7 linked regions of the Homo sapiens genome follow. The protein of the gene in region 1 purifies or fractionates together with the protein of each later gene. This does not show direct contact. Each region holds a gene or a part of one and is shown on either strand. Other genes may lie near its edges.

Region 1 (2,236 bases):
TGGCCCCAGGCCACACAGATGCTGCGAGTTGGGATTATGATCGGGTGCAGTGGCTCACACCTGTAATTCCAGCACTTGGGGAGGCCAAGGCGAGTGGATTGCTTGAGCCCAGGAGTCTGAGACCAGCCTGGGCAACATGGTGAAACCCCATCTCTACAAAAAAAAAATACAAAAATTAGCTGGGCGTGGTGGTGCGTGCCGGCGGTCCCAGCTACTCAGGAGGCTGAGATGGGAGGATTGCTTGAGCCTGGGAGGTCGAGGCTGCAGTGAACTGTGATCACGCCCCTGCACTCCAGCTTGGGTGACAAAGCAAGATACTGTCTCAAAAAACTCGAGTTGGGATTTCACCCTGCGTGGTCCAGCACTGAACAGCGTTCACACCTCGGTCAGCTCAGCCCCAAAAACGGGGAAGGCCGGGCGGGGTGGGGACGGCATGCGGGCAGGCCCGTGGCTTTTCGGAGGAGTCCACGGGCTTCCGGCCACTGTGCAGGGGCGCTTTGCTCTCTGCTCCCAGACAGACCCTGTCTTGCTCACAGCTTCCTGCAGGCTCCTCTGAGAGTCCAGCAAAGCTGGGCGAGATGTCTCCCAGGGAAGGGGAACACTGACAGCCGTGCTGCTCTCTGCTCCTTCCACTGGAAGGGAGAGGCTGCATGGACAGGGGGCTCCGGGTGGGGCAGATGGGGACACTCAGGACTGCGGCCTGACCCTCAGAGACTGAGCCCAGGACGTGGTCACCTGACCAGCACCTCCCCCGTGGCTGTCCCAGCCTCACGGTCACGGCCCAGCAGTCCGGGAAAGCCACTTACACGTAGTGCCCGGATCCTGACCCCGGTGAGGGACAGGCAGGGTCCCCTGGGATTGGGGGGGGGGTGTGGTTCTTGGCCCAAGAAAGCCCCAGCTGAAAGCACCAGCTACGCAACGAAAGGGTCTGAAACCAGAAAATTCTTTATTGCAAAGGTACAAAAGCAGTCACAGCAGCAGGACGCACGGCAATAAATTAGGTGGTGGCCGCAGGGACGGGGCAGGGCGGCGGCGGCCAGACACGGGCCCACATGTGATCTGTTTTCAATAATTTATATCATGATAAAAAGCAGCACAAAAAATAAATAATGAAATGGAACTGCCAAGTAGCACAGAAGCCAGGGTGAGGCGGTGTGGCGGCGTGGCGGCATAGGGGGCCGGGGTCCCCACGCCCTGGAAACGCAAAGACCTGGATCTCTTTGGGAAGCCGGAGGCACGGAGACAGAAAACAAACCCACGTGACAAAGAGTCCCTCGTCTTTTTCTTAAATAAAAAAATCCATATATTAAATCATGACAATGAAATTTCAACAATCTGAAAAGAAAAGCAGAACACACCGTGCTTCCCCGGCCCAGCTCTGGGCGGTGACAGCGGCTCCGTCCACCCTGGGGACCAGGGAGTCCCTTCTCCAGCAAAGCACTGCAGGCCAAGGGCAGGTAGAAGCCCACGGCCCACAAGACGTGGACACCAAGAACCCCAAGACGGGACAGAACCGGCCACCCGCTGCGGCCTGTCCTGCGGGGCCCAGCTGCCTGGTACAGTCCGTGGGGAGATGAAGGGGGACGGCGGGCAGCCCGGGCCTCCGCTTTGCTCCCAACTCCCACCTGTGCCCGTGCCCCCGGCTCTGCTCTGATAGATTTACAGTATCAAACTGGAAAAGAAAGATTGTTACGAAAAATCTGTAGATAAACTGTGAATATAATTTTATATCTCTATATATTTTCTGTTTCTCTCTTTAAATATCCCCCTGGTCCTTATGACATCCAATATGGATTACCTACCACGGCCACGGGGGCAACGGCTGTTTGGGAACACGCAGGCCTTTGCTCTGTAGGGACCCAGTGGTCCTGGCGGGCCTGCAGCTTCCCACTCAACTTCTAACAGTAGACACAGAACCAAGTCGCAGCCCCGGGGCTGTCTGTCCTCTGCCCTCCCAGCGTGGCTGGCACCCGCCTGGGCTCTGTAGCTGGTGGGGGCTGTTACTGGGTGGGCAGGGGCAGCCGAGAAGGAGCCAGGGCCCCAGGCACCACCTTGCAGGTCTTATGTGGCGGCCCCCGGCCGGCGGCTCACATTCCGCCAGCTCCCCCAGGCAGGGGCTCCGCAACCCCCGCGGCTCTCGCTGCAGAGACCCCAGTCACAGGAGGGACCCTCAAGGCGGCTCTCCAGGAAAAGGAAGCCCAAGGTGGAGTGCCAAGCCCACTGGTGCCTCAGTGCT
Region 2 (3,500 bases), on another chromosome or scaffold:
AGCTTTAAGACCCAAGACAATTCATTATTCGACCTGAACACTGCTCTGATGGCTCAATTTCAATACCAGTTCTTGAAATCTGAGTACTGCATATGTAATTAGAAGCAACTTCCTGGCCTTTTTCTTGTTCAAAAAATCTTTTTATCCAATTTACTTCACTCAGCATAATTATACTGAGAACCATCCATGTTGCTGCATGTGTCAACAGTTTATTCCTCTTGATTGCTGAGCTGTATTCCAGTATATGGATATACCCGTTTCTTCATCCATTCCCCTACTGATGGACACTAAGGTTGTTCCAGTTTGAGGCTATTACAAATAAAACTGCTATCTACAAGTCTTTGTATGGACATATACTTCATTTCTCTTGGGTAAATACCTAGGAGTGGAATGACAAATTCCAAAATGGGTTGTACCATTTTGTATTCCCACTAGCAGCGTAGGGAAGTCTCACTTGTTCCACATCTTCACCAATACAGTCTTTTAAATTTACACACATCACTGGCCAGGCGCAGTGGCTCACACCTGTAATTTCAGCATTCTGGGAGGCCGAGGTGGGCGGATCACTTGAGGACAGGAGTTCAACAACAGCCTGGACAACAAGGAGAGACCCCATTTCTACTAAAAATACACAAATTAGCTGGGCGTGGTGGTGCATTCCTGTAATCCCAGCTATTTGGGAGGCTTAGGTGGGAGGATCACCTGAGTCCAGTCGGCTGAGGCTGCAGTGAGCCATGACAGTGCCACTGCACTCCAGCCTGAGCAACAGAGCAAGACCCTGTCTTAAAAAATGAAACCTTTTCATCACAAGCGCACAAATTCGTGACAGCAGACTTTTTTGTTCATCTCTCTGCAAATTCAAAATACTTCTAATTGTGCAAAGAAAATCACTAAAACATGAAAGAAAAAACCAATGACCACAACCACAAACTCTAACCTCAGACCTGAACATTACTAAGCAAAATAAAACATTCCTTCATCTTTATGTTCCACTGACAGTGATTCTCTGCAGTCCAACAGAGCAGCCACTAACCACGTGTGACCTTGGAGCACTTAAAATGTGTTGTGAATGTAAAATGCACACTGGAGTTCAATGACTTAGCATGAAAAAAATGCATGTAAAATATCCCATTAATAATTTTTATATTGATTATGTTTCAAAGTAATATTCTGGATAAACTAGGTTAAATAAAATATATTGTTAAAATTATTTTCACCTGTTTCTACTTTATACAATTTTTTTAAAAAAATTTAAATTGACTTTCAAATCAAAGTCAATATATAGGAGCTAAAAATGATCTCATAGACAGTAGAATATAATAGATACCAGCAGCTGGGAAGGGTGGACGTTGAGAGCTTGGTTAATGGATAGAAAAAAAAAACTTAAATGGAACGAATGAGTTCCAGTATTCAATAGCAAAGTAGGATGACTATAGTTACCAATTTCTTGTACATATATATATATTATTTTTTTTTTGAGACAGTCTCATTTTGTGGCCCAGGCTGGAGTGCAGTGGTGCGATCTCTGCTCACTGCATCCTTTGCCTCCAGGTTCAAGCAATTCTCGTGCCTCAGCCTCCCTCATACCTGGGATTACAGGCACAGGCCACCACAGCCGGCTAGTTTTTTTTGTATTTTTAGTGGAGAAGGGGTTTCATCATGTTGGCCAGGCTGATTTCAAACTCCTGACCTCAAGTGATCTACCCACTTTGGCCTCCCAAAGTGCTAGGGTTACAGGCATGAGCCACCACGTCAGGCCAATTTCTTGTATATTTTAATTTGAAATGTTAAGTAGATTTGAAATGTTCCCAACACAAAGAAATGATGTATGTTTCAGGTGCTGGATATCCTAAATACTCTGATTTTATCATTACACATTCTATCCATGTGGGCAAATATTACTGTACACTATAAATACGTAAAATTACTGTTTGTCAATTTCTTAAAAATTGATACATAATTTTACATATGTATGGAGCACAATGTGATGTTTTGAGATACACCCACACACACACACACACACACTCTCTCTCTCTCCCTCCCCTTGTGGAATGATTAAATCAACCTTATCTATTTCTTTGTGCTTTTTAAAAAAGCATTATTATAAAATTTAAAATTGTGTATATAGCATATATAATATTTCTATGGGACAGCACTGATCAAAAATTTTTAAAGGAGACTCAAAATAATGTATCTTCAACTGGCAAAGAAAGAAAGAAAGATGTGTGTGTGTGTGTGTGTGTGTGTGTGTGTGTATACTTTCCCACCCTATTTCTCCAAGGTGAAGAAAATGGTACAGCAGAAAGGGCTTAGATCTGGAACCAGGACTGCCTTTAGGTTCTAGGTGCAACTCTTACTGTCTAGTCTATGTGTCCCTGAATACATCATTCAGCTTCGGCCACGTGCAGTGTCTCACGCCTGTAATCCCAGCACTTTGGGAGGCTGAGGTGGGTGGATCACCTGAGGTCAGGAGTTCGAGACCAGCCTGGCCAACATGGTGAAATCCCATCTCTACTAAAAATACAAAAATTAACTGGGCGTGGTGGCGCATGCCTGTAATCCCAGCTACTTGGGAGATAGGGAAATCATTTGAGCTCAGGAGGTGGAGGGTTGCAGAGAGCCGAGATCTCGCCACCGCACTCAGGCCTGGGCGACAGAGGAAGACTCAGTCTCCAAAAAAAAAAAAAAAAAAAAAAAAAAAAAAAATCATTGAACTTCCCTTGATTTAAGCTTCCTGATCATTTTTTTTTTTTAATTCAAACAAGTCGGCCGGGTGCGATGGCTCACGCCTGTAATCCCAGCACTTTGGGAGGCCGAGGCGGGGGGATCACGAGGTCAGGAGATCGAGACCATCCTGGCTAACACGGTGAAACCCTGTCTCTACTAAAAAATACAAAAAAAAAATTAGCCGGGCGTGGTGGCAGGCGCCTGTAATCCCAGCTACTGAGGAGGCTAAGGCAGGAGAATGGTGTGAACCCGGGAGGCGGAGCTTGCAGTGAGCCGAGATTGCGCCACTGCACTCCAGCCTGGGCGACAGAGCAAGACTCTGTCTCAAAAAAAAAAAAAAAAAAAAAGTCAACAAAGGCCTGGCATGGTGGCTCATGTCTGTAATTCCGACCCTTTGGGAGGCTGAGGCGGGAGGACCGTTTGAGCCAGGGAGGCTGAGGGTGCAGTGAGCCTTGATCATGCCACTGCACTCCAGCCTGAGCCACAGATCAAGACCATCTCTATAAAATAAATAAATAAAAGTCAAGTGCAAATGTATTACGCTCCTGTTTTACAAAGCATTTTTCTATTATTGCAGATCTTCGGTTTACAAATTAACTGGAGGTGGGATCCAAACATACTAAGATTGTACAAGGCAAAATGAAGAGAGCCCTAGATGAGACTCTGTGTTTGTGTGGCATGTGTACGTGTCTGCATGTGTTTTAAAGGTGAAAAAGTACATTAAAGGACTCAGGGGAAACTCTAAGCACTTGGAAGACTCCTTCTAACTCTAA
Region 3 (3,500 bases), on another chromosome or scaffold:
TGTTTAAAAGATGCCAATTTGATTGTGTCTAAACTGAACTTTACCCAGTGTGCTGAATACTAAAGACCTTTTAGGCCAAAGGAAAAAGATGTTTATATATTAACATACCTCAAAGTTTACATTTTCATTATAATAAATTAGCCTTAATGTTAACAAATAACATCTCAGAAAGCTGAATCTAAGTAGCCTGATCTATCATGCTAATTTGAGTTTGTTTTTTGTTTTTGTTTTTTTGAGATGGAGTTTCGCTCATGTTGCCCAGGCTGGAGTGCAATGGCACAATCTCAGCTCACTGCAACCTCTGCCTTCTGGGTTCAAGGGATTCTCCTGCCTCAGCCTCACAAGTAGCTGGGATTACAGGCATGCGCCACTATTCCAGGCTAATTTTTGTATTTTTAGTAGAGATGGAGTTTTACCATGTTGGTCAGGCTGGTCTCAAACTCCTGACCTCAGGTAATCCACCCACTTTGGCCTCCGAAAGTGCTGGGATCACAGGCATGAGCCACCGTGCACAGCCGACTTTTTTTTTTTTTTTTTTAATTCAAACTTTTTTTTTAGACACAGTCTCACTCTGTCACTCAGTCTGGAGTGCAATGGCACGATCACAGCTCACTCTGGCCTAGACCTCCTGGGCTCAAGAGATCCTCTCATTTCAGCCTTCCAAGCAGCTGAGACTACAGGCATGTGCCACACCTGGCTATTTTTTTTTTTTTTTGTAGAGGCAAGATCTATGTTGCCCAGGCTGGTCTCATACTGTACTCAAGTGAGTCTTCTGTCTTGGAATCCCAAAGTGCTGGGATTACAGGTGTGGGCCACTGTGCCTAGCCACGAATTTGAATTTAGAATACTATCTTATCTATCCATTTTTACCAAGCCCCAGAATCAAGAGAGATGCAGTTATATATTTTTTAAAAATCTGGTGAGGTGTGGTGGCTCATGCCTGTAATGCTAGCACTTTGGGAAGCTGAGGTGGGAGGATCACTTGAGCTCAGGAGTTCGCAGCCTGGCCAACATGGTGAAACTCTGTCTCTACTAAAAATACAAAAAATTAGCGGTGTGTGGTGGTGCATGCCTGTAATCCCAGCTACTCTGTGGCAGAGGCACGAGAGTCACTTCAATCTGGGAGGCAGACGTTGCAGTGAGCTGAGACTGTGTCACTGCACTTCAGCCTGGGCGACTGAGTGAGACTGTCTCAAAAAAAAGAAAGAAAATAAATCTAAATTATGCCAATATTATCAAAGTTTCTTACCTAAAATCATATACAATTTTAAGCACCAAAGCATACTTTCTTCAAAAGTTACATCCAAAATATTAAATGTTCAATCTCATTTTTCAGTTCATTTTAAGTCTCAATACTGAAATCTCCGTATAAAAGGAATAATAAATGCTTTGAAAGACCTGACAATTACCACTAAACTCCTCTCAAATCCCAGTGTCCTGGGGCAGTAGCCCATGTGCTTCAAGAAGTCCAATGACAGCAGGATAGTGGTCAGGGAGACAGGAGTTTAATCAGGAGGTGCTCCCCAGAATGTTCATGGAAAGAACAGATGATTCACAGTGGAAAAAAAGCAAATGATAAATAAGCCTTTCTTCTTTCTCAATATTACTAACTAGAAAGCAGGAAAATCTATTAGGCAGAGAAAAACCAGATATGCCTGGAGATACAGGTAAGGAGTCTGTGTTCTCTCAGCTGTCTCACAGGTTAATGAATCAGATATATTTATGACCCATGCTAGGCTCCAAAGTAAGATTCAGGTACTCTGTATGCCAGTAAAGGCTTCAAGGATACTCCAGGGTTTAGCTAGTATAAAGAATAAAGGACAAAGAAAATGCCAGACAACCAGCCTGAGCAACATAGCAAGATCATGTTTTCACCAAAAAAAGTTTTTTTAATTATCTGGGCCTGATGGTTCATGCCTGTAGACCCAGCTACTTGGGAGGCTAAAAGGGGAGGGAACATTGGAGTCCAGGAGTTTGACAGTGAGTTATAATGATGCCACTGCACTCCAGCATGGGCGACAAAGCAAGACCTTGTCTCAAAAAACAACAAAAAGTAAACGTCAGATAGAATCCTCAATTTTAGCAACAAACCCTCATGCTAGCAGAATGGAAGTGATTTACATTTTATTTTTGATTCAAGATCTAGGAGATAGGCTGGGTGCGGTGGCTCATGCCTATCATCCCAGCACCTTGGGAGGCCGAGGTGGGCAGATTGCTTGAGTCTAGGAGTTTGAGACCAGCCTGGGCAACATGGCAAAACCCTGTCTCTACAAAAAATTAAAAAAATTAGCCAGGCATGGTGGTGCATAGTCCCAGCTACTCGGGAGGCTGAGGCAGGAGGATCGTTTGAGCCTGGGCTGCAGAGGTTGCAGTGAGCCAAGATCATGCCATTGCACTCCAGCCTGGCTACAGGGAGACCCTGTCAAGAAGGAAAGAAAGAAAGAAAGAGAGAGAGAGGAAGGAAGGAAGGAAGGAAGGAAGGAAGGAAGGAAGGAAGGAAGGAAGGAAGGAAGGAAGGAAGGACGGACTAAGAGATAAGATGGATTTTTTTTTTTTTTTTTTGAGACAGAGTTTCACTCTTGTTGCCCAGGCTGGAGTGCAATGGTGCGATCTTGGCTCACCGCAACCTCCGCCTCCCGGGTTCAAGTGATTTTCCTGCCTCAGCCTCCCGAGTAGCTGGGATTACAGGCATGCACCACCACACCTGGCTAATTTTGTATTTTTAGTAGAGATGGAGTTTCTCCATGTTGGTCAGGCTGGTCTCGAATTCCCGACCTCAGGTGATCCATCCGCCTCGGCCTCCCACAGTGCTGGGATTACAGGCGTAAACTACTGCACCCAGCCAAGAAGGAATATTAATGGTTTCAGAATAAAAGGATCAAGGCTTAAATATTCAAAAGATAATTTCTTAGATGAAAACACATGACTAAACAGTTGCACTGAAAAATGTACAAAGAAACACCACCAAATTAGAAGTATCCCAACATTTGACTGAATGTCAGCTGGGACATAGACAAAAAACAGGAAACCAAACCTAGCTATTTGTTTTTCTTTTCAGTAGGTGGCATAAAGGGGTAAGATGAGAAAAGGGATCAACAAATGTAGTTCAACTTAATTGAAGAATTCTGCCTGACGTAGTAGAGGCAAATAAAATTGTTGGTTTTGTGGGATTATATTTGTTTCCATTTAGGGACACATTTCCTGTTGTTTAAATGCCACAGCAACTCATGAGATGAAATTCATCTCCAAAATGGATCCACATAACTGAATTTCCAAGTAAATACAAAGAGTCTACAGCCCACAGAAACCATTACAAATTACACTTTTATTTTTGCCCCAACTCCTATACTAAATATGGTCTAATTCCTGAGGACTAGCAATGGTGGTTTATCCCACAGTCTTGGGGCAAGCGTCCCATCTGATAAGTCTCACTCCTCCCTCCTGCCCACCACCTCTCAGGAAAGGATTCAGAGAAACTTGGTTAGAAACTGTTGTCCTTA
Region 4 (3,500 bases), about 64 Mb from region 1:
TGTAATGCTAGGACTTTGGGAGGCTAAGGCAGGCAGATCATTTGAGGTCAGGAATTTGAGACCAGCCTGGCCAACATGGTGAAAGCCCCTCTCTACTAAAAAGTACAAGAGAAAAAAAAAATTAGCTGGGCATGGTATTGCACGCTTGCAACCCCAGCTACAAGGGAGGCTGAGGCACGAGAATTACTTGAACCCAGGAGGCGGAGGTTGCAGTGAGATAAGATTGCACCAGTGGACTCCAGCCTGGGCGACAGAGTCTTAACTCTGTCTCAAAAAAAAAAAAAAAAAAAAAAAAGGAAAAAAAAAGGCACCTGAATTCTGGACTCTATCTTCACATGTATTGTTTTTAATTTCTTATAGGCAACAGTATAGAGAATATGTGCATTTATTTTCAAGGACAGAGAAGGCAGAGCATGTTAAACTACCCTCCTACCCAATGACTCATGGATAAGGATAACAGAAACAGGAACAAAATAACAGGTGGGAGCAGGTATAAAGAAGTCAGTTAAAGAGCTGAAATCCTGGGCCCTGTTGGCAAAAAAAAAAATGCAACAAGAAGACGCCTGTGGGCCGGCTGCCGCACAGCCACGGGCCTAGATGCTTTCATAGGGCACTTCAAGACTAAGGTGCTGCTGAATTACTTGTTGCAGGGACTAGCAAATCTGGCCAGCTACCTGCTTTTGTAAATAAAGTTTTATTGGCACCCAGCCATGCTCATTCATTTATGTAATGTCATTCATTACGTAATGTCTGTGACTGCTTTCATACTAGAAGAGTTGAGTGGCTGCGGCAACTGGCAAAGCCTATTTTCTGCCAGGCCCTTTACTGAAAAAGTTTGCTGACTTCACCTATGCTAAACAACTAACATTTCGAAATTAATGTGGTCACAATTTTACCTAAGAAAGTTAACTTCAGAATGATACGGGCAACTTATTTCTTCCTCTATGCCTTTCTTTTCTCAACTGTAAAATTGGGATAACAATCATGCCTACTTCTTAAGACTGCTGGGCAATTAAATGAGCTGAGATAATGCAGGATTAAAGCACTTAGAATAGTGTATAAATACCAGATATCCATTAAATGCTACTGTAATGCAGCTAGGTACGTTTGGCTCAGGGTCAAATTCCCAGTGGAATTTAAAATGTGCTGTAACTCTAAATAAATGATGGTACAATTATGCAATGGATTATTCTGCAGCTGTAGAAAAGAATGAAGACATTTAATATACTGATATGGAAAAATCACCATGATATATTCATCAGGCAAAAAAAGAAAATGCAAGCTGCAGAACAGTGGGTATAGCATCTGCCTTTTATATTTTAAAAAGGAGGAAAATTAAGATTGTGTATTTGTACTTTCTCGTATATGCATAAAGAGACAATAACAAGCTACCAGTCGGGGCTGAGGAGCACTGGAAACCAGGCATAAAGGGAAGGGGTGGGATAGATTTTTCTTTGTGTAACATTTTATATATGTATATATATATATATTTTTTTTTTCCTGAAGGAGTCTCGCTCTGTCACCGAGGCTGGAGTGCAATGGTGCGACATTAGCTCACTGCAACCTCTGTCTCCCAGGTTCAAACAATTCTCCTGCCTCAGCCTCCCAAGTAGCTGGGATTACAGGTGTGCGGCACCACACCTGGCTAATTTTTGTATTTTTAGTAGAGATGGGGTTTCACCATGTTGGCCAGGCTGGTCTTGAACTCCTGACCTCGTGATCCACCCATCTTGGCCTCCCAAAATGCTGGAATTATTGGCATGAGCCACTGTGCCCGGTCCTTTTTAAAAACTTTTGAACCACGTGAATGGATTACCTATGAAAAAATTAAATTAAAAATGCTGTGTCTCAAACAGGTTAGAAGGGAGTACAGATGCTGTGCTCTGGAAATTGCTAGGTTAGTTCAAATGTGCCTCCCATGAAGACACCAACATTAAAAGGCACGTGAAGCATCTAAATGCGAGTCAAAAAATGCGAATGAAAAAACACATGTGATAAATATGATTTAAAATATGTATATACCATGGCATTAAATTAATGGTAAAACAAAAATTTGGCTGTCACACCTCTATCTTCAAGAGTTAATCTAGTCAAAGGCTGTTCTTAGGTTCTTTGCCTTTAAAGGAAAACATCTTGCATCTGGGCTTATACTTCATATTCTTCTCTAGAAATCCAGCAAAATGGAAACATGCAGAATACCTAGTGAAATTTCTCCCTCCTCCCCAACCACCCGACCCTTTTCTATGCATTTACATGCATGTATACAAACACGTTTATCCTATACCTATTATACCAAAATTTGCTTTTTTCACTAAATAGTGTCTTTATCTTTCTAGGATATAAACATAGATCTCCTTTTTCCTTTAATGGCTACATAGTATTTCATAGTATTTTCTAATTTATTCAACCATTATCTATTTGTAACCTACCTCCATTTTTTTTTTGCTATTTTACACTGTACTGCTATGAATATCCTTGTGCACACATCTTTCTACTTCTGCAAGATAAATACATAGATATGGAACTGGGCAAACTCGACAGAACTACTGAGGATGATTTAGATTTATAATTTGCCTCATAACAAATCAATTTCAGATAGAAGAGTTACATGTATTTTTAATGAACCAAATCAGAAGAGCTGACAGGTAATGGAATATTAACAATTAAAATACAAAAGCATTGGTATGCAACAAGATCTACAAAAAAGAAGAAAAATAAAATGCAAAGGCATCAACAGATGGATTTAACTCTAAAAGTATAAAAACTTAATACAATACAAATTCATAACACTAACAAAAAAGGATAAAGAATGCATAAAATGTTTGTAACACATATAAAAATGTACTAGTATCGGGATCCAATAACTAAATGCTAAATGGGCAATAAAAGGAAATTAAAAAGAGTAAAAATTAAAGTAATAGGTACTAATGTGTAACTATTAGCAATTTTTCCAGGTGAAGATTATCGTTACAATTAAAAAAAAAAGAAATTTTACAAAGCATGTCTTAAAAATAAAGACCGCTGGAGCTTCAGGGAAACCAAAGAACTGAGGGAAAAGCAAATTGGTAACACTGATTAAAATTGAAAATATCTGTGTTTTTTGATACTATGCTTGGAAATTTATTTTGTGGAGATAATTCAAAGGAAGGAAGGAGCAGGAGGTCTTTAAACAAAGTTGATCACTGCAGCATTATTTGGAAGTAAAAGGAGTGAAACCTAGATGTTAACAATAACACTTAGGATAAACGACACTATGTTGAAACACAGTTCACATTAAATTATTAGTTTTTGAGACAGCGTCTTGCTCTGACCCCCAGGCTGGAGTGCAGTGGTGTGATCTCGGCTCCCTGCAACCTCCATCTCTTGGACTCAAGTGATTCTCTCACCTCAGCCTTTCAAGTAGCTGGGACTACAGGTGTGTGCCACCACACCTGGCTAATTTTTGTATTTTCTACAGAGACAGAGTCTCACCATGTTGCTCCTGGGCTCAAGTAATCTGC
Region 5 (3,500 bases), on another chromosome or scaffold:
ACTTTCTTTAGCACTTCACAAATTACAAAGTGCAACCTCCGCCCCCGAGGTTCAAATGATTCTCAACCAAAGTTGATAAGTAATTATCAACTTTGATAATCTCTGACATTTCACAATCACTTTGTGAGATGATTATTACTATACCTATTTTACATGAAGAACCTGAGGCTCAGGTTACTGAGACTTGCCCAAGGTTATATTATTATACAAGTCTTCTGGCCCCAATCCCATTAAACCTCACTGCATTTCACTGTTTTCAAGGCCACATTATAAGTTCCAGTTTTTAAGACAGGTAATGCACAGGGTATTAGCATACATTTTTAAGAAAAACAAATTCTAAGTTGTGAGTGGTTTATTTATTGAATCTTTAAGAAACCGCTTAATCCAACAGAAAATAAATGTGTTTCCCAGCTGAACAATGCATACTCCCCTCAAAAAAAGACACATACGTGTGTAACTATTTTAACAGTCTGCAATCTATTCTAATTATAATATAGCTAAGCCCAAGTTGCTCCTGATCACTTTCTTCCCAGATCCAGCAGATAAGGTGTGTTCAGTATAAGAGCAGTGAAGTCTTCTAAATAGTTTCTAGAGCAATAAGGCAAACAATTAGAACTCAGAATAAAATACCATCTGTGTGCTAACTGTGCCAGATCTAACAGCACACAGTTTTTCTTTTTTTCTTTTTGAGACAGGGTCTCATTCTGTGGCCTGTGCTGGAGTACAGTGGCACAATCTCAGCTCACAGCAACCTCAACCTCCAGGGCTCAAGCGATCCTCCCACCACCAAGTAGCTGGGACTACTGGTATGCGCCACCACACCCAACCAATTTTTTTTTTTTTTTTTTTTTTGTAGAAACAGGGTTGAGGGCAGGCACAGTGTGGCTCACACCTGTAATCCCAGCACTTTGGGAGGCCAAGGCGGACAGATAACTTGAGGTCAGGAGTTCAAGACGAGCCTGGCCAACATAGCAAAACCCTGTCTCTACTAAAAATACAAAAAAAAAAAAAAAAAAATAGCGTGGTGGCACATGCCTGTAATCCCAGCTGAGGGAGGCTGAGGCACAAGAATCATTTGATCCCCAGGGGTGGAGGCTGCAGTGGGCCAAGATTGAGCCACTGCACCTGGGCAGTTTCACCATGTTGCCCAGGCTGGTCTCAAACTCCTGAGCCCAAGCAATCTGCCTACCTCAGTCTCCCAAAGTGCTGGGATTACAGATGTGCACCGACAGTTTTTCAACAGAATCTACCCTAGGAAGTTTGAGGATGCTGCAACATTCTTGCGCTCTAAAATGTACTACTGCATGAGGCAATAGAACATGTAGGAGTCAAGAGACCTAGGTGCTTCTCCCTACACTCCCACTAACTTAAGTCACTCCCCTCTCTCTTTGGAACTTTCTTATCTATAAACCAAAGATGAAATGGGATGGACTCTTAAGTTCATTCCAACTCTAACATTCTACTATTCTAATTATTGCCTAAGTCCTCAATATAAAAGAGAATTTACAATAAACATATTTTCAAGATACATAAAATCATTTTCTCTTGACCAAACTTACTTTGGTCAAGTGGCTAATTAGATACATGTCAAGCACTGAGGATATCACAAGAATAAGATACACAGCCCATCCTCAATTCTAGGGGAGGACAAAGATCCATAATTAATTTCCATACTATATGATTAAAGCTATGAGATGAGCACAGGTTTTACGGATAAGATACCTAAGATACCTTAGCAGTGCGGATAAGATACCTAAATAAGGAGACGGAAATATGGGTGGATTTGAAAAAAAGAGTTCTTAGAGATTCTCATTTAAGGAAGATCATTTTAGAAGTCAGGTGGAAGACGAGTTTGAAGAGGGTAAGATTAGAGGAAGTCCAGGACACTGCAGAGACCACAGAAAACAGTCCAGATAACTGATGATGAGAGTCTAGAATACAGAAGTTATAAAGGATAAGGAGAAAAGCAGAGCAACTGGTTTATGAATAGTTTGTTCTTGACTTAAATATTGTCCATGAAATCTACTTTATATTACTTAAATCTTTTTACATAAATAACAAAAAACAAATTTTAAACCAGTCCCTACCTAAATAACCACAATTCCAAAACAAGCTTTACTCTAGGCTTCCCTTTTTTTTTTTTTTTTGAGAGGGAGTCTCGCTCTGTCGCCCAGGCTGGAGTGCAGTGGCACGATCTCGGCTCACTGCAACCTCTGCCTCCCAGGTTCAAGTGATTCTCCTGCCTCCCAAGTAGCTGGGATTACAGGCGCCCACCACCAGGCCCGGCTAATTTTTGCATTTTTAGTAGAGACGGGGTTTCACCATGTTGGCCAGGCTGGTCTTGAACTCCTGACCTCAGGTGATCTGCCCACCTCAGCCTCCCAAAGTGCTGGGATTACAGGCGTGAGCCACGGCGCCTGGCCTAGGCTTTTCCACTAATGAATAAAACAATTTACTCAAGGAAATATCTGATATTAAATGTTAATATCAAATTTTCCTCTTTACTCACATTCATAGTTCTCTGAAAAGTGAGAACTCACAGGACAGAACCAAAATTAAGGAAAAAAAAATGTTTTAAGCAATGAATTCAAATTTTATATCGAAGGGCATAGCCAGAATACCAAAGTATATCAGGTGAATGAAGGTCCAGGGATAAGAGACAAATGGAAAGAAACACATGAAAGAAGGAACCCAAGATAAAAACCATATTTACTTACAGGATCAACAAAATCCATATTGAGTCCATAACAAAGCTTCTGGATTCGAGATGTAATTTTGTCAAACATGACTCGTTCTTGGCGGCCATCTAAAGAATCAAATCATGTTAGCAATTATTAAATTCATGTTAGCAATTATTAAGACTACAATGTCAAAGAATCAAATGTAATTAACATGTAAATTGACCAACATGAAGTGCTATTTCACAGAAAAGATTGAGGCCCCCTCAAAAGATTCATGAAGAGATTGTCTTCTCTGATGTCACCTTCAAAGAGTATGAATTCTATACAGACAGACGTTTACGGATAATTTCCTAAATTTTTCCCCCATCCCACATGGCAGCCAAAATTACCCTTTAAAAGTTAAACTCAGAATCATATCATTACCTCCTTCAAAACTCCTAATAGTGGCTTATGATCTCCAGAATAAAAGTCAAAATTGTTATAACAATCCACAGGCCAGGCCTAGTGGCTCACACCTGTAATCCCAGCACTTTGGGAGGCCAAGGGAGCGGGGGGGGGTGTGGATCACTGGAGGTCAGGAGTTCGAGATCAGCCTGATCAATATGGTGAAACCCCGTCTCTACTAAAAATACAAAAAATTAGCTGGGCATGGTGGCAGGGGCCTATAATCCCAGCTATTCGGGAGGCTAAGGCAGGAGAATTGTTTGAACCCAGGAGGCGGAGGTTGCAGTGAGCTGAGATCACGCCATTGCATTCCAGCCTGGACAACAAGAATGAAACTCCAACTAAAAAAAAAAAAAAATCCACAGAATCCTATAC
Region 6 (3,500 bases), on another chromosome or scaffold:
GATAGATGGATGATGGATGGATGGATGAATGGATGGATGGATAATGGATGGGTGGATGAGTGGATGGGTGATGGATGGATGGGTGGATGGATGATGGATGAATGGATGAATGGATGGATGGATGGATGATGGGTGAATGGATGGGTGGGTGATGGATGGATGGATGGATGGATGATGGGTGAATGGATGGGTGGGTGATGGATGGATGGATGGCTGAATGGATGGATGGATGGATCGATGGATAGCTAATGGAGGGATGAATGATGGATGGATATGTGGACGAGTAGATAAACAGAGATAAAAGAGGGTGAGTGGGTGCATAGATGGACAGAGAGATAAAAGAGAAGGGAAGGTATGTGGGTGGGGAAGAGACACTCCACCTGGATGGGAAGGTGGGTGGGTGGAAGAGGGCGTGGGGGAGGCAGAAAAACAAGAGGGTTCACACACCTGAGAGCAGGATGATCTCATACTCTTAGAAGCAAGAAGACACACTGGAAGGGATGGGATCCCTGGGGCAGGAGCATCCACCACTGCCCTCCACATCACCGCCCCACTCCCAGCCCAAATCCCTGCCTCCCGCCTGGTACCTTTTTGGCCCCAAGCTTCAGTGCCTTCTTCCTGGCTTCCTCGAAGTCTTCCTTCTGGCCAATGTTGGCCTGAGAAGCAGAAGCGGAGAGGCTCCGTCAGCCCCTGGGGGGAGCCCTGAGTTCACACCATCCGCATGCAGCAGCCTCCCACCCCCTGCTACAGAGACAGCTTCCATTCCATGGCCAAGTCACAGTAAGAAGGAAAAAGGACAAAGCCCAAGGCCTGGAGAGGTGAGATTCTTCCAGGAGGTGAGATTGGGAGCTGGATTGTAGCGTGGTGATGGCTGGTGGCTTCCATGGGTTGGAGCATTGGCTGAGCCTGGCCCTGGCCACACAGGCTGCTGGGAGACAACCATCTGCTGTCATTGCTGGAAGGTCTAGGGTTCTCCTGAAACTCATCTGTCTTTTCCAGAAAACTCTTTCTCAGCCAGTGCAAAGATTAGCTTGTCAGGGCCTTCCTAGCCTCCAGCTCTCCTCCCTAGTCAAAGGCCATGCCTTGGCCATCCTGAGGCAGCTGAGAGGCGGGAGGCAGAGAAGCCCGTGCTCAGGAACTTCCAGCTCCGTCCCTGTGGCCAGTGCCCTGACCTCGGGGTCTGACAGCCCCTGTCTAGACACTGCCATGTTTCCTGCTGCCTGGACTCTGGCCTGCTGCCCAGATCCTGGCCTCAGCCCTCACTCCCTTCATTCGGCTCACCAGACCCTGGAATCTTGCCAAAGCCCAGCTGCAGGTGCTTATCTGAATCACATTCAGCTTTTAAATCCCCCAGGTGGTAGCCCAGGGGTCTATACGCCCAGCTCCAGCTCTGATTGCCCCGCTGTGCTACCTACAGTGAGATGGATACACCCTGGGCTCTTTGCAGCCCCTCAAAGCTGTGCTCTCACCCACCAGGTGACTGTGAGCAAAGTATTTCTTCCCCTGGGCCTCACTTTCCCCAACCTGAATGACAAGGGCATTGGGCGCAGTTAGACATGCCAATATGCCGGCAAACAAGCCACTTTTGGCAAGAGCTAAGTTTTGTCTGTCCAGAGACCCAGGCTCACTTCCTCTGGAAACAGAACCTTCTTTCCTGGGTGGACCCCATTCCACAGGGATGGAGAGGAAGAAATCCCGCCCACTGAAGGAGTAGGCTCATGGCCCAAGCCTCGCACCCCATGATGCAGCCATAGGGACTAATGCGTGGTGGGTCCCCATGGGCCCTACTGGGGGTAAGCCCTCCTTTTTGGGAAAGGTGGGCTATGAGGGTGACCATGAGCCTTGCCTGCCCTGTGGAGAGGCCAAGAATGAAGCCAAGTAGAGTTGGAGATAGATCTTAGAAGCACCTGGATCCAGCCCTGCCTGAAGCCATCCTACCCCTGGAGTTCTCAGTTGTGTGAGCCAAGAATTGTCTTTTCCCTTTCCTTTTTGCGTAAGTTGGTTTGAGTTCAGTTTCTAAAATTTGCACCTAAGAGTCCTGAACAGCACAGCCACACAGAGAAGGACTCAGAGCTGTGGCCAGGTTCAGTCGAAGAGGAGCTAGTTTGAGAGGGATGACTCCTATGGGCCCTGGATGAGGAAGTGGCTTCACACATAACCCATCACCTGTGACCTATTTCCCATCCCAGAACCAGGTGATCCCCCAGGGTCCTTCCAGCTCAGGATTCCACAATCTTTGCTGAATTACTGCAGGCTGACAGCATACTCTGGAGATGGGAAGACTGTGTGCCTTCCCAGGGCTGGCAGCAGGTCCCAGCCCATGCCTCTCTGCAAGCAGGCTAAGCCAGCAGCACTGCCAAGTTCACTTCTGTGCCCTCCCCGCGCCTCCATCACCTGGCTCTGGAAGGCATCTCAAGGATGGCCAATTTGCAGATGGAGAAAGTGAGGCAGTACAACGAGAAGCTATTTTCCTAGTTCCAGTTCAAGACAGGCTTCGAGAGAAGAGGCCAGGCTTGAATGAGTGACGGTGAGCAGACAGGCTGACAACCCAGACAGAGGCTGGCAGGGGGCAGACAGGACAGGTTGCAGGACACGCAGGAAGACAGACACCCAGGTCGCTCCCTCACCAGATAGGCAATGACGTCATAGCCTTGTTCCTTCAGCCACACGAGGATGCACGAGGTGTCCAGGCCGCCACTGTAGGCCAGAACCACGGAGCCTTTGCTGGACATAGCGTCTGGCGGGAGTCGAGGAACAACCTGAGTGACCCTGAGACAGCCAGTGCCCCCCGCCAGCCCCTGCAGACAGCCCAGCCCCGACCTTGGCCTTGGACAGCCTTGTCTCCTGGGCAAGCTGCCACTGAAGGTCGGGAACAGGATGTTCACCTTCAGTGCCTGCCACCCCCGGGAACCCTGACCTCGCACACTCTGCACACAGCCCCACAGACCACACTGGGGCCTGGGAATGCTGACTGCAGTCCTAGGCTGGTCGGGGAGAGGCATCTCTTGGACCTGATCCTCCAGCATCGAGGGAAGGCGGCTGAGGCTGAGCAGTTTGGCCCAAGGCCAGGATGTGAGGAATGCACGCAGGCAGGAGATGTGGGAGGGGCCTTGGCTCTGAGCCTCTGGCAGCTGACACATCCCCCATCAGAACTGCTCCTTGCCAAGCACCAGGCAGGGCCCTGGGAGCCTCAGCGGGATCTCCCTGTGCCCCTGAGCCCCCACTACAACCTCATGAAGTAGGAGTTGTCATTCCTATTGGGGAGGCAGCCAGCAGGGCTCAGAGAGGTCAGTGGCAGGCTCAAGGTCACAGAGGGCACAAGAATCTGTGCTTCCCCAGCACGCAGTGCCGCCGCCCACCTGCAGGTGGAGAAGGATGCTGTGGGGCAGGGGCCCAGCCCCAGTCCCTCTCCTACCTGCAACCCCATGGAACCTTCACTGGCTGGAATTTTAGACATCGTGTCTCCAAATGTGAGCGCCTCTGAATTCAACTCTGCCAAT
Region 7 (4,215 bases), on another chromosome or scaffold:
AATAAAATGCGGCCTCTGATTCAGTAGCCTTGGACAGGACCAGAGGTTCTGCCTGTTCTGATGAGTTCCCAAGTGAGGCGGACAGTGCCAGTCCACAGACTCACACTTTGAGATACAACACCTGGGCCGTTGTGTCCAAATCCACTTGATAACCTGGAGCACTTATTAAATATCCAAATTGCCAGGACTTTCCTCTGGAAATCTGGATTCAGTATGTTTTGGTTGGAGCCTTGGGCATTTGGGAAAACTAGAATTTCTTTCTCTCTCTTTAGACAAAAGTCAACTACTGTTGAGGCATGGGCTTAATAAATGTTGACTAAAATATCCAACTCAACGACCAATCCTGTACAGTTTTCAAACGGTGTTAGTAACTTATTTGCAAATAATAAGGAACAACTTATTCCTCATCACACTGAGGAGCCGTGTGACCCATCGTGCTGGATCAGAGATGAACACCAAGCACGCTCCTAACACCAATGTCACCCTGAACGTCAACAGGAAACATTGGCCGTGGAGAAGTTGTTTAAACCTCTTGAAGCATCTTGCCAACGACGAGACTTCAATAATCCTCCTTTATTCACAAAAAATTTAAAACCAGTGGCAACAACGGCACATTACTTAATAAAGCAACTAAGTTAGAAGTGCAAGACACTGATTTATATGCTGTTGATAGGTCTGGAGAGACAGGACCATTCACTAGGCTGAAAAGGTGGTGGCCATCTGGTATCTTCCTAAAAAAGTTTATCAGGGTCCTGGCCAGGCGCGGTGGCTCACGCCTGTAATCCCAGCACTTTGGGCCGGCTGAGGTGGGAGGATCACGAGGTCAGGAGTTTGAGACCAGCTTGACGAATATGGTGTAACCCTGTCTCTACTTAAAATACAAAAATGACCCCAGCGTGGTGATGCACACCTGTAGTCCCAGCTACTCAGGAGGCTGAGGCAGAAGATTCACTTGAACCCGGGAGGTGGAGGTTGCAGTGAGCCGAGATTGTGCCACTGGACTCCAGCCTGGGCAACAAAGTGAGACTCTGTCTCAAAAAAAAAAATAATAATAATAATAGAAAATAAAAAATAAAATAAATAAATAAATAAATAAATAAATAAATAAAAAGTTTATCAGGGTCCTAATCCTTTCCCAGAAGGCAAACTAAAGCCTGGAGCAAGACAAGGTCTTCTCCAAGGCCACACAACTGTCAGTGACAGAGGATTCAGTTCAAAGTCCTGTCTTTTCAGGCCTGTGCCTACAAACCAACCGTTAATCTGAGTATTTCAACCTGGCCAAAGGCAACACAAAACACCCAACCCTATATTTTTGGGAAAGAAAAAAACGGGGGCAACTGAGCAGACAGACAGAGGCAAGTACAATGTGGCCTCCTAGATAAACCTCAATGCGCTTATTTCTTTTGGCACAGACACTTCCTTCTTAATTTTGAAGGAAAGTCACATCACATTACATTCTATCTGTCCCTAAGAATTAAACCCTGTTAGGTGAGCCAAACTTAAACACATTAAATTCTACAAATAGGCCAGGCACAGTGGCTCACGCCTGTAATCCCAGCACTTTGGGAGGCCAAGGCGGGCGGATCACCTGAGGTCGGGAGTTCGAGACCAGCCTGACCAACATGAGAAACCCCCGTCTCTATTAAAAATACAAAATTAGCCTGGCGTGGTGGGCCATGCTTGTAATCCCAGCTACTCGGGAGGCTGAGGGAGGAGAATAGCTTGAACCCAGGAGGCGGAGGTTGCGGTGAGCCGAGATCGCCCCATTGCACTCCAGCCTGGGCAACAAGAGCGAAACTCCGTCTCAAAAAAATAAACAAACAAATAAATTCTACAAATAGCCATTAGAATTATTAGGATAGAAAACGATGATGGGTACTAACAGATTCACTCAGAAGGAGTGGGCAGCTAATTCACATTATGTGTAGCTCTGGCTTGGAGAAGACACAGGGCTTGGAGGAGGCAAGACTGTTCAGCATGAATTAAAATTGATTTATGAGCTTGCTGTAGCACTTGGAATAGAAAAAAGAATCTTTTCAGCGCCTTTGACCCCTCTCTCAAATTACACCAGGGTGCAACTGAGGAACAACAGTGCCGACCACCCACTTTTCTCGACCCTTGGGGAAAATAACTTTTTTTTGGAAGGGAGAGTCAGTAGATGAGGCTGCATTTTCCACCAGGGAACACGAACTGCTGCGGGAAGATCCCAGCTTCTGGCTAAAGGAGCCGCAGGCCAGCTCGCCATCCAGTCCCCAGAGCCCGGGCTTTAGGTAAAGCGTGGAGATGCAAATCAGTTTCGCCGCCAAGGACCGGCCAGGCGCGTCTCCTCCCGGGCCTCGCAAGGAACAGGTCAGGGAGACGACTTCCAACTTTCTTGGCCGGACCCTAAACGTTCACCGCCCCTGCCCAGCCGCCCACTCCTGGGCAGCCAGCAAGTCTCCATTCACAAGCGGCTCCATGCTGCCCAGCACTGGCGCCCCTGAGGCGCGGAGCCCCGCAGCCAAATGACAGGACTTGGGGGCAAACAAGGACAAAAGTTCCCACCAGGTGGGCACTGCAGGAAGGAGGCCGACAACCCCGAGATTCTCCGAGTCCCGCGGCACGTGCGCTGCGACGCTGGCCGCTTCCCCCGCCGCTCGGGAAGGTCACGCCGCCCGCACACCGAGGCCCGCCCCGCGCCCCGCTCCCCGCTCCCTCTGCCTGGCGCGCTCCCCGCAGCTGCAGGCGCCAGACCGGGCTGCGCTCACCGCCGCGCCGGCGTGGCCGCGTCCAGCTCAGGCTCCGCCGCCCGCTCTCGGCTCCGGGTCGCCGGCTGGGGCGGCCACTTAACACCCACGTCGGCAACGGCCGGCCCTTCGCCCCTCCCTTCGCGCAGGCATCCCGGACTGCGGCCCCGCGAAGCTCAGGAGCGCCCCTGCGGCTGGCGGGCGGCCTGCCCAGGGCCGTGCCCGAGCCGAGACCGGGAGCCGCCACCGCCCACCGGCCCTGCCACCGCCCCCAGCACGGGAAGCGGAAGTGGGCGTGGGGCCGCGGCGCGCACAGCCAGCCCGCGACCCGGCGTGGTGCTGCCGCCGACCCTGGTGAAGGTGGAGAGCGGGGCCTGCGCCTCCGGAGACTTTCCCACCTCTGGGATCCCCGAGACCCTCTCTGAGGCCGGACCCTTGTTAGCCCGCTGGGCTGGGACTGGGGGCTGGGGGCTGGTAATGTCAGTGGTTGGGAGGACTTACTTTTTAGCTACTTTGACCTTGTTGGGAGGCTAAGGCCTTATTTATAAATTATATTTGAGTACAAAATTATACTCGGGATCCAAGGCCCTAATAGGAAATACAACTAAGTATGAAAATACAGGAATTAGCCGGGCATGGTGGCTCACGCCTGTAATCCCAGCACTGTGGGAGGCCGAGGTAGGCGGATCACCTGAGGTCAGGAGTCCAAGACCAGCCTGGCCAACATGGTGAAACCCCGTGTACTAAAATTACAAAAATTTATCCAGCGTGGTGGTGCGTGTCTGTAACCCCAGCTACTAGGGAGGCTGAGGCAGGAGAATCGCTTGAATCTGGGAGGTGAAGGTTGCAGTGAGCCAAGATTGCATCACTACACTCCAGCCTGGGCTACACAGCGAGACTCCGTTTCATAAAAACAAACAAACAACGACAAAAAAAAAAAGGTGTGGTGACACATGCCTCTATTCTTAGCTATTTGGGAGGCCAAGGCGGGAGGATCGCTTGAGGCCAGGAATTGGAGGCCGCAGTGAGCTATGATGGCACTGTTGCACTCCAGCCTGGATGACAGAGACCTCATCTCTCTCTCTCTCTCTCTCTCACCCACACACACACACACACACACACACACACACCCTCCACACAGTGTAATTTTATTTTACAACTTTAAGCCTTGTTTAGATGTGCTGTTGGATTATTATTTTTTTCTTTTTTTTTCTTTTTTTTTTTGAGACAGAGTCTCACTCTGTCACCCGAGCTGGAGTGCAATGGTGCAATCTCAGCTCACTGCAACCTCCCCCTCCTGGGTTCAAGCGATTCTCCTGCCTTAGCTTCCCAAGTAGCTGGGATTACAGGCATGCGCCACCACACCCAGCTAATTTTGTATTTTTTAGTAGAGACAGGGTTTCACCACCTTGGCCGGGCTGGTCTCGAACTCCTGACCTCAGGTGATCTGCCTGCCTCGGCCTCTCAAAGTGCTGGGATTACACGTGTG

What was found.
Region 2: the proteins of TMEM184A (region 1) and GPAT4 purify together in Homo sapiens (affinity purification with mass spectrometry; one large-scale study listed by BioGRID and IntAct). This does not show direct contact.
Region 3: the proteins of TMEM184A (region 1) and PDP2 purify together in Homo sapiens (affinity purification with mass spectrometry; 2 studies listed by BioGRID and IntAct, with this or other methods). This does not show direct contact.
Region 4: the proteins of TMEM184A (region 1) and VKORC1L1 purify together in Homo sapiens (co-immunoprecipitation; 2 studies listed by BioGRID and IntAct, with this or other methods). This does not show direct contact.
Region 5: the proteins of TMEM184A (region 1) and RRM1 purify together in Homo sapiens (affinity purification with mass spectrometry; 2 studies listed by BioGRID and IntAct, with this or other methods). This does not show direct contact.
Region 6: the proteins of TMEM184A (region 1) and ASS1 purify together in Homo sapiens (affinity purification with mass spectrometry; 2 studies listed by BioGRID and IntAct, with this or other methods). This does not show direct contact.
Region 7: the proteins of TMEM184A (region 1) and SLC25A15 purify together in Homo sapiens (affinity purification with mass spectrometry; one large-scale study listed by BioGRID and IntAct). This does not show direct contact.

Annotation. Positions count from the first base shown.
Region 1 is NC_000007.14:1,541,735-1,543,970, reverse strand, and holds the end of TMEM184A (transmembrane protein 184A), read left to right. Parts: 3' UTR 1-1,736; downstream 1,737-2,236. UniProt on the Homo sapiens protein: Acts as a heparin receptor in vascular cells. May be involved in vesicle transport in exocrine cells and Sertoli cells.
Region 2 is NC_000008.11:41,581,200-41,584,699, reverse strand, and holds part of GPAT4 (glycerol-3-phosphate acyltransferase 4 isoform 1 precursor), read right to left. Parts: intron 1-3,500. UniProt on the Homo sapiens protein: Converts glycerol-3-phosphate to 1-acyl-sn-glycerol-3-phosphate (lysophosphatidic acid or LPA) by incorporating an acyl moiety at the sn-1 position of the glycerol backbone. Active against both saturated and unsaturated long-chain fatty acyl-CoAs.
Region 3 is NC_000016.10:66,887,015-66,890,514, reverse strand, and holds part of PDP2 ([Pyruvate dehydrogenase [acetyl-transferring]]-phosphatase 2, mitochondrial precursor), read right to left. Parts: 3' UTR 1-3,500. UniProt on the Homo sapiens protein: Mitochondrial enzyme that catalyzes the dephosphorylation and concomitant reactivation of the alpha subunit of the E1 component of the pyruvate dehydrogenase complex (PDC), thereby stimulating the conversion of pyruvate into acetyl-CoA.
Region 4 is NC_000007.14:65,949,574-65,953,073, reverse strand, and holds part of VKORC1L1 (vitamin K epoxide reductase complex subunit 1-like protein 1), read right to left. Parts: intron 1-3,500. UniProt on the Homo sapiens protein: Involved in vitamin K metabolism. Can reduce inactive vitamin K 2,3-epoxide to active vitamin K, and may contribute to vitamin K-mediated protection against oxidative stress.
Region 5 is NC_000011.10:4,101,299-4,104,798, reverse strand, and holds part of RRM1 (ribonucleoside-diphosphate reductase large subunit), read right to left. Parts: intron 2,807-3,500; coding exon 2,718-2,806; intron 1-2,717. UniProt on the Homo sapiens protein: Provides the precursors necessary for DNA synthesis. Catalyzes the biosynthesis of deoxyribonucleotides from the corresponding ribonucleotides.
Region 6 is NC_000009.12:130,451,461-130,454,960, reverse strand, and holds part of ASS1 (argininosuccinate synthase), read right to left. Parts: intron 2,738-3,500; 5' UTR 2,733-2,737; coding exon 2,628-2,732; intron 657-2,627; coding exon 588-656; intron 1-587. UniProt on the Homo sapiens protein: One of the enzymes of the urea cycle, the metabolic pathway transforming neurotoxic amonia produced by protein catabolism into inocuous urea in the liver of ureotelic animals.
Region 7 is NC_000013.11:40,788,196-40,792,410, reverse strand, and holds the start of SLC25A15 (mitochondrial ornithine transporter 1), read right to left. Parts: upstream 2,801-4,215; 5' UTR 2,748-2,800; intron 1-2,747.